3 separate regions of the Homo sapiens genome follow, and regions 1 and 3 are each linked to region 2. The links come from fine-mapping of genetic effects on gene expression. A gene starts in region 2. Each other region holds a variant in brackets. All regions are shown on one strand. Distances are between the middles of the regions. Region 1 overlaps PODXL2 (podocalyxin like 2). Region 2 holds the start of MCM2 (minichromosome maintenance complex component 2). Region 3 overlaps MGLL (monoglyceride lipase).

What was found. PIP is the estimated chance that this variant, and not a neighbour inherited with it, causes the effect.
Region 1: its variant is fine-mapped to the expression of MCM2 in aorta (GTEx, PIP above 0.99). The same link has a PIP of 0.9 or more in skeletal muscle and tibial artery.
Region 3: its variant is fine-mapped to the expression of MCM2 in subcutaneous fat (GTEx, PIP 0.94).

What each region holds. Positions count from the first base shown.
Region 1 is chr3:127,635,584-127,638,428 of GRCh38, forward strand. All of the region lies in intron 1 of PODXL2 (podocalyxin like 2), which reads left to right. Among named protein-coding and RNA genes, the nearest start is that of PODXL2, 7.8 kb to the left of the region's middle. The variant A/C (reference allele first, on the strand shown) is at 1,501.
Region 2 is chr3:127,596,618-127,599,436 of GRCh38, forward strand. It overlaps MCM2 (minichromosome maintenance complex component 2), which reads left to right and starts at 1,794. Exons shown (of 16, transcript NM_004526.4): 1 at 1,794-1,855; 2 at 2,701-2,819. The coding sequence starts at 1,850. It also overlaps a transcript of TPRA1 not described here. RefSeq lists enhancers at 1,472-2,429, 1,783-1,902 and a silencer at 1,933-2,092.
Region 3 is chr3:127,758,406-127,760,905 of GRCh38, forward strand. All of the region lies in intron 3 of MGLL (monoglyceride lipase), which reads right to left. Among named protein-coding and RNA genes, the nearest start is that of MGLL, 63 kb to the right of the region's middle. The variant T/C (reference allele first, on the strand shown) is at 1,418.

The DNA of each region.
Region 1 (2,845 bases), 39 kb after region 2:
TGGTTTCAGATTCTCAGTTCTTAAGATCTGATCCCTGGACAGAAGCATCACCTGGGAACTTGCTAGAAATGCAAATTGTTGGGCCCCGTCACAGACCAGCTGGATTCAGAACTCTAGGGTGGGCTTAACAGTCTCTGTTTTAACAAGCCCTCATGGTGATTCCATGCTGGTTCAAGTTTGAAAGCACTGGATTAAAACGGTAGCCATTTATTTAGCTCATGATTCTGTAGTTTGGCAATTTAGGCTGCAGTCAGCTGGGTGGTTCTGGTCTCAGCTGAACTCCTTCAAGTTTGTCATCAGCTGTTTATCACCTTTGCTGGTCTTGTCTGGCTCTCTCACTTTGGGACTTCAGCTAGGACACTGAGCTGATCTGGCTCTCTTCTGCATGGGCTCCTGTTTTCCTGCAGGCTAGCCTTGAGCAGAATCCTGAGAGAATGGAAGCGTGCAAGGTATCTTGATGCCTAGCCTTGGAAATGGCACATCATCACTTCTGCATTGTCTTGTGTAGCAACTCACAAAGGTAGCTCAGATTCAAGGAGTGGAGAATTAGATTTCATCTCTTGATGGGAGGAGCTACAAAGTCTCATTGCAAAGATGTGTGTTATTAATTGGGAGTCATTGGATAACCCCTCTCAGGAAGAACCTTAAGAAGGTACTGTTTTGGGGTAGGACAGGGCACTCTGTTTCTTTCCCATCTACCTAGTAGGGGATAGATACTGCTTTCTTCTATAATATTCGGGCTAGGAAAAAATCCAAGAGTAGCTTAGGGTCCCCCCGTGATGTGAAGGGGAATTAGAGTGGAAGAGGTCATGGGAAAGTCTTGAGCTAGAGAGAGTACAAGTCCTTAATTCATCCTCTCCCAGGAACAAAGGGGAACTTCAAGGGGAGTGGACCCCAAATTGATTGTCTTGGCTTTCTCTGCCTTTTAAATACCTTTGGCTCAAAGAAACCACAAAATATGAGATGGCTGTTTCTCTCTTTGAGTCAGGGATTCAGACACAGGCTCTGGGAACATGACTTCAGCTTCGTGGAGCCAGGCCCTGCCTGGAAGCAGAATCTTTGTCCGTGGACATGGTGCCTAGGACAGCAGAAGACATTCCGGATGGGGTGTGATAGCTTCCTGGTTTGGACTTGGCAGAAGGCAATCCCCTGTGAGCAGTCCTCAGGAGCACTGGCAACACAGCAGTGCCATTGGCTCCCACCTGCCCAGGGTCACAGCTTGCCCACCCTTTAGGTATTTTTTTATTTTTATTTTTTTGAGACAGAGTCTCACTCTGTCGCCCAGGCTGGAGTGCAATGGCACCATCTTGGTTCACTGCAATCTCTGCCTCCCGGGTTCAAGCAATTCTCCTGCCTTAGCCTACCAAGTAGCTGGAGACTACATGCGTGTGCCACCATGCCCAGCTAGTTTTTGTGTTTTAGGAGAGACTAGTTTTGCCACATTGGCCAGGCCTGTCTCGACCTCTTGACCTCAAGTGATCCGCCCGCCTCGGCCTCCCA[A/C]AGTGCTGGGATTTACAGGTGTGAGCCACCACACCCAGCCCCATCCTCTAGTTATGATGATACTTTCTAAAGCTGAGAGTTGGGCCTGTGAATTATCTTATTGAGAGACAGAGCTTCACGGGATCTTAGAGGTTGGCACAGACGTTTACTAGCCCTGGTCAGATGCTAAGGCTCTGATGCCTCCTTAGCCCCGGCGTTGGCTTTGAGGCCATGTAGAATCACTCTGATATTCTTATTCACATCAACCTTTTGTTTTAATGTATTTGAAGATACCATGGTCTCTTTTAAATATTTTTTTCCCCGGGCCATGAACTTCACAGGTCTCTGTTTTTTATATAGGATAATAACACAATATTTGTAGAATAGTTTGGTTTGTAAAGCTCTTTGTAGAGCAGCTTTCACACATGGCTCACCAATTACCTCATTTGGTGCCCCTCACACTGGAGGCATGGTAGGAATTGGTGTCCTTATTACACAGAGGAGGAGAGCAAGGCTGGTGGTGGTGAAGTCACTCAGCCAGAGAAGCCAGAGTGTAACCTATTTCCTGGTACCAGGCTTTCTCTCCTGTTATATAGAACATCTTCCTGTCTCTGACCTCAGGGCGTCTCTCTTACCCTGGAGTCTCTACTTCCCATCCCCCATCCACACAACCCAGAATACACCCCTGTGGCTGGATGTGGCATTATTGGCTGTGAGTTGTCTGGCTGCTGCACAGTGTGCACAGACTCCCTCATACGGAGACTCACAGGACAGTCTGAAATGCTCATTTTTTTCAGTGGCCAGTCACAGTATTGGCACGTATCAAGCTTAGGGCCTGCTCAGCAAAGCACATGGCACCAATAATATTAGCCCTATTTTTATTATAAGCATCACTAAAAATTGCCATGTACTGTAGTCAAGTCAGGTCACAGTACACATCTGGTGTAGAGCAAGAGGAAGACTGTGAAATTCCCTCTTCCCTAGATCCTTAAGTGTTAGTCTTGGAAAAGAATTCAGAGGTCATTTCATTTAGCTTCCTTGTCTATCTGGTGAGGAGACTGAGACCCAGAGGTCTTGAGCAGCTTTCCAGGAGCCTCACAGCAAGTTAGTAATTTGTGTGGTTAGGTCATTAAGTTAGAGGTTAAGTTGTGAAACTGGCAAATAGGGCTATATTCCTGTCCTTAAAGAATGAGAGTGAAAGAAGAGGAAAAAGGCCTCCTTTAATTTGTTTTCCTGTCCATTTATTTGCTTGTTTTGGTAAATTAGGAGAGAGAGAGAATCCAAGATTCTAAACAAATATGTCAAATTACCAGCACTGGGTTGAGTTTGAACTGTGACCTCACGTGGTTTTTTAAAAGACTACGTT
Region 2 (2,819 bases):
TCCCATACATGGATATCCAACAGCTTCCTGGATATGTCCCCTCGGCCCAAATTCAGCACAGCCAGAAACAAACTCATCTTCTTCCCCCTTAAATTGCTGGTCTTCCTGTGCGCTCCTATCTCAGCTATCATCCACCTAGCTAAGCCAGGATCCTGGTGTCATCCTGCATGCCTCTTTTGCTGTCCTCAATCACCAACACCTATAGACCCCACTTCCTGGCCGGGCGTGGTGGCTCACGCCTGTAATCCTAGCACTATGGGAGGCCAAGGCAGGCGGATCCACTTGTCAGGAGTTGGAGACCAGCCTAGCTAACAATGGTGAAATCCCATCTCTACTAAAAATACAAAAATTAACCGGGCACAATGGCGTGCATCTCTAATCCCAGCTACTCGGGAGGCTAAGGCACGAGAATCGCTTGAACTTGGGAGGTGGAGGTTGCAGTGAGCTGAGGTTGCACCACTGCACTCCAGCCTGGGTGACAGAGTGACTCTGTCTCAAAAAAAAAAAAAAGATTCCACCTCCTAAACATCTTGTATTTCCAGTTCTCTCCATCACTCCTGCCTCCCTACCCTGGGTCCCAGGCAGAGATGCTTGTTCACTGCACAAAGTGCCTGGCTAAGAGGGTTGCGATTCAGCCCTGCCTCTGCTCACTAAGGCTGCCTGGAACTAGACAAGAACCACAGCAACCTCCTCGTTTGCTGCCTTCAACCTCGTTCAATCCACTTCCACCTGGTAGCAGCCAGAGGGATTCTAAAACCCACACTAGTTCACGTCTCACCCTGCTCAAAATGCTTCCATGGCCTTCCATTGCTTTCAGAATACAGAATAGTCAAACTCTCTAGAAAAACATCTAGCTCTTTTTTGATCCGGATTTTCTCTCCCTCAAGTCTTGTCTGTTGCCCGGCATCATAAGCTCCTAGGGTTAGTTCTTAGGGAGGGGCTTGCACATCCGGGCCCTGCCATGACCTCTGCAGCTTTGCACATGGCATCCTTCTATCTGTAACATCCTCCCTGCGTCTTCGCTCCCCTGGGCAAAGATAACTCCTACTAAAGCCTCAGATGTGACCTCCTACAAAATCCCAGAGTTGTCCAGCTGCTTGAAGTATTGAGCCTTTGAGCTTTGGGAGAAGTTAAACCATTGTGCTCCTAAGACGGTAAGAAGCGTCAGAAAACCAGGCTCTGAACCTCTGCTGTCTTTTTTTTTTTTTGAGACGGAGTCTCACTCTGTCACCCAGGCTGGAGTGCAGTGGCGGGATCTCGGCTCACCGCAACCTCCACCTCCCAGGTTCAAGCGATTCTTCTGCCTCAGCCTCCCGAGTAGCTGGGATTACAGGCCCGTGCCACCATGCCCAACTAATTTTTGTATTTTTAGTAAAGACTGGGTTTCACCATGTTAGTCAGGCTGGTCTCGAACTCCTGAGCTTGTGATCCGCCCACCTCGGCTTCCCAAAGTGCTGGGATTACAGGCGTGAGCCACCGCGCCCGGCCTCTGTTGTCTTGTCAGCAAAATGGCCCTGGTGTGACCGAGGTCACGCAGCCAGCAAGTGTCGTCGGGTCCCCTGGAGCCTCAGCTTCTACCTCCGCTCCAGCTCCCACCACAGCGCAGGCGAGCGCACGCGCACAGCGCCGGGCCGCACACCTCCGGGCTCTGGGCGGAGCGCCTCGGGCGTTGTAGGCGGGACCGGACCCTCTGGCCCGCCCCTCCGTGTCCCTTCTGGTCGCCAGTGGACGCCGACGTCATGACGTCGCGTTCCGTAGGGCTCTTCCCGGGCTTTGGTGGGTCACGTGAACCACTTTTCGCGCGAAACCTGGTTGTTGCTGTAGTGGCGGAGAGGATCGTGGTACTGCTATGGCGGTGAGCGCGCTGGCGCGTGGCGGGCGGGCGCCGGGGACATGGGTGCGGAGGCTGCGCGCTTCCCGTACTCTGGCCCCGGCCCAGGGCGGCGCTCTGGGTGAGGCTGGGCCCCAGGCTCTGGGGCGCAGCTACTTTCTCGCCTGCACCCTGCGTGAGGCGACTCGCCTACCTACCACTGACCTGGGGCCCTGGGCTCCCTAAGGCGAGCTCGGCCCGTTCAGCCTCTGTCCTTTATTCACCCCACACATACTTATTGGGCGCCATCTGTGTGGCGCTGAGCGTACAAAAGACAGGCCCCCATTTCACTACACTCCTTTAAACTTTTTTTTTTTTTAATTTCCCAATGATCCTTGTTCCAAACACTACACTTACTTTTGTATTACCTTCTTGTCCCTTTGTCTTGTATACTGTCTGTTCCACATCTGAGTTCCAGACCTCTTGTTTTGGTGGCTCTTCTATGCCATCTCTATCACAATACCTTGCGCACTGTGTGTGCTGAAATAGGTCTAATGCTTAAGGGGAGATAATAGACAGTAAACAGGTAAATAGGCAAATGACATAACCTCAGTGGTTTTTCATGGAGAAAGCACGGTGATGTGGGTGACCCCGATATTTGAGCTGGCTTCTATTTGTTTGGAAGCCACTGACTCAGATTGCTCAGCTGAGAGCATTCCAGGTGAGAGAACAGCAAGGGCAAAGATCTGGAGGCTGGAAGGGGTTTGGTGTGTTGGAGGACAAGAGTCACAGGTGGAGAGAAAGAAGGGAAGGCCCCTGATGGTAAAAAGGAAGCTGTATCATGCCTCACCAGCTTCCTAGGTTTCTGACAACCGCACCTTCTCTTGCAGGAATCATCGGAATCCTTCACCATGGCATCCAGCCCGGCCCAGCGTCGGCGAGGCAATGATCCTCTCACCTCCAGCCCTGGCCGAAGCTCCCGGCGTACTGATGCCCTCACCTCCAGCCC
Region 3 (2,500 bases), 160 kb after region 2:
GTTGGTAACTGGGCATCAAGCTAATACATTATAGACTGAACGAATGAATAAATACACGAATGAGGCTTGGAGATGTGAAGGAGCTTGCAAAAAGTCAATAGCTAGAAGTTTTTCAAGCTAGACAGAAGCCCAGGTCAGCTTGGCCCTCTTAGAGCAGCCCCTGAGCCTTGTATAATTAAATGGTGTGTTCCGTTGTTAGTGCTGACAAAGTGCCAGTCTCCTTTCCTAACAATTCGGCTGTACCGAGCGAGGAGAATGGGGGAAGTCACCTGTAATTTTCTTTTCTGTCTTCCCCTTTAAAAGGGTCTTTAAAAATCAGATATGTGTTATAAAAAACAATGGGATAATGGGTCGATTTTTCATATCATGACAAGCAATTGCTAGGGAGAAAAATATCATTCTTGAAAATGTGCAAAAGTGCACTGGCTGTAAGTTGTAAACATGACCCTCACAGGAAAGGATATTCTGGGGGCTCCTGGCACCTATTTCTTTCTTTTTCTTTTTTTTTTCTTTTCTTTTCTTTTTTTTTTTTTTTGAGACAGAGTCTTGCTCTGTTGCCCAGGCTGGAGTGCAGTGGTGTGATCTAGGCTCACTGCAACCTCTGCCTCCCAGGTTCAAGTGATTCTCCTGCCTCAGCGTCCTGAGTAGCTAGCTGGGATTACAGGTACATGCCACCAAGCCTGGCTAATTTTTGTATTTAGTAGAGATGAGGTTTCGCCATGTTGGCCAGGCTGGTCTTGAACTCCTGACCTCAAGTGATCAACCTGCCTCGGTCTCCCAAAGTGCTGGGATTACAGGCGTGAGCCACTGCGCCCGGCCCTGGCAGCTATTTCTCACAGCGTCCATTATTATAAACCAGCTCTCCTATTCTGTGACCCCAGCAACTGAGACACAGAGTCAGGCGGCTCTCAACCCTTCTCTCTGCTATGCGTGACCCTGGCTAACATCTCCAACCTCTGCGGGACTGTCCTTACCCCTCCCTTGGTCCCCTACCACACCTGATGTGACCAAGGCTCTCAGCACCGTGCCTGGTACACAGTAGATGCTCACTGGAGGTGGGTGTGCCTCTCTTCTGAATCACGTGCTCAAGAGGGATGTCTGTGTTCACCTGCGGCCATTTAAAAATCTCAGCTGTGGGCATGTTCTCATGTCTCACTGCACCTTCCCCTGCTTAGAGGTCATTTTCCAAGGAAGGGAAGAGAGAATGTAATTCACAGAAGCAGTGCCACTTTACAGAGATGCTTTGAGCCCAGAGATCCCGATGACTTCAGAGACTCTTGGTTCTCGTGTGGACTGGGAGGAAGGAGTGGCCTGATGCAGAGCTCCTACCTGCTCAGATCAGCCCAGCTCCTTCTCCCTCACTCAACACAGGGTCCTTGGAATCGGTCCCTTTGGCCTTCAGATGATTCTCCTTTTT[T/C]GGTAAGAAAGCTTCCACTGAATAAAACCTTTAAGTGATTTTTCCAATCTGGTGGCGTCTGTACAATAACTGAGGAGAGAAATAATTATGATTATGGGGTCTGAATGATCCAGCACTTCTCCACGACTCTGAGGAGGAGGCAGCTGGCCCCTGCCTCTCACATTGACTGTCTTTGCGGGCAGGCCCTGCTTAGACGGCTTGGTTTTCTGCGTTGGAGAAAGGAAGCCAGTGGTGTAGCAGGGAGAGCGCTGGATGTGCACACAGCTTTCAAAGAAAAGCAAAGGAAAGATGACGGGAGGGAAGGGCAGAGCCACACAGGGGTGGAAGCATCCATTTATGGGACATTGAGTTTGTGTGGGGTCCTATGAGCTAACGTTTCCATAGGAAGCCTCAGGCCTAACATACAGATGGGAAATCTGAGGCTCAGAGAGGTCAAGTGACTGTCCTGGACACACAGGTATAAAGAGTAGGCCAGGCCACTCTGCCTCCACCCAGCAGGTTCACATAACAGAACTCTCTGGGCTAAGCTCCACTTGTCAACAGGGGACCAACCCCTCTGGGCTCACACCATGCCACACAGGGCACGTGGGTGCTGAGGAATGAAGGTGAAAGGACCTTGTTCTCCCCCTGCAGTCAGCCCCGATGCTGGCTCTGTCCCTCATCCAGGCTCAGGCGCCACCTCTGGGAGTCAGAGCATCTTCTAGCAGAGCCTTGGCAGGAGGCGAGGTGAGGAGCTGGCACGGCACCCCTGACAGACTGCGCGTCGCAAGCTATTCCTGGAGCCGCTGCGGCACTTCTGTCAGATGATGCAGAAACCCCAGGGCCACTCGCCTGGGGGCTGTGCCCCACGCCAAGCTGCTCAGAGGCACAGCACTGATTGGGGGGCGCTGGTCCAATGGAACCTGCGGCTCTGCACCCCAAAGCATTTTCCCAAAAGTTAAAACTGTAGCAAGGTGCAAGTGTGTAAGAATTTCAGTCCGACTTTGCCCCCTAATGACTGTGAGCTTGAATAAATCAGGCAGCATCTCTGAGCTTGTTTCCTCCATAGGGACGTTGCCTGCCTTACTCTGCTGCCGTAGGATT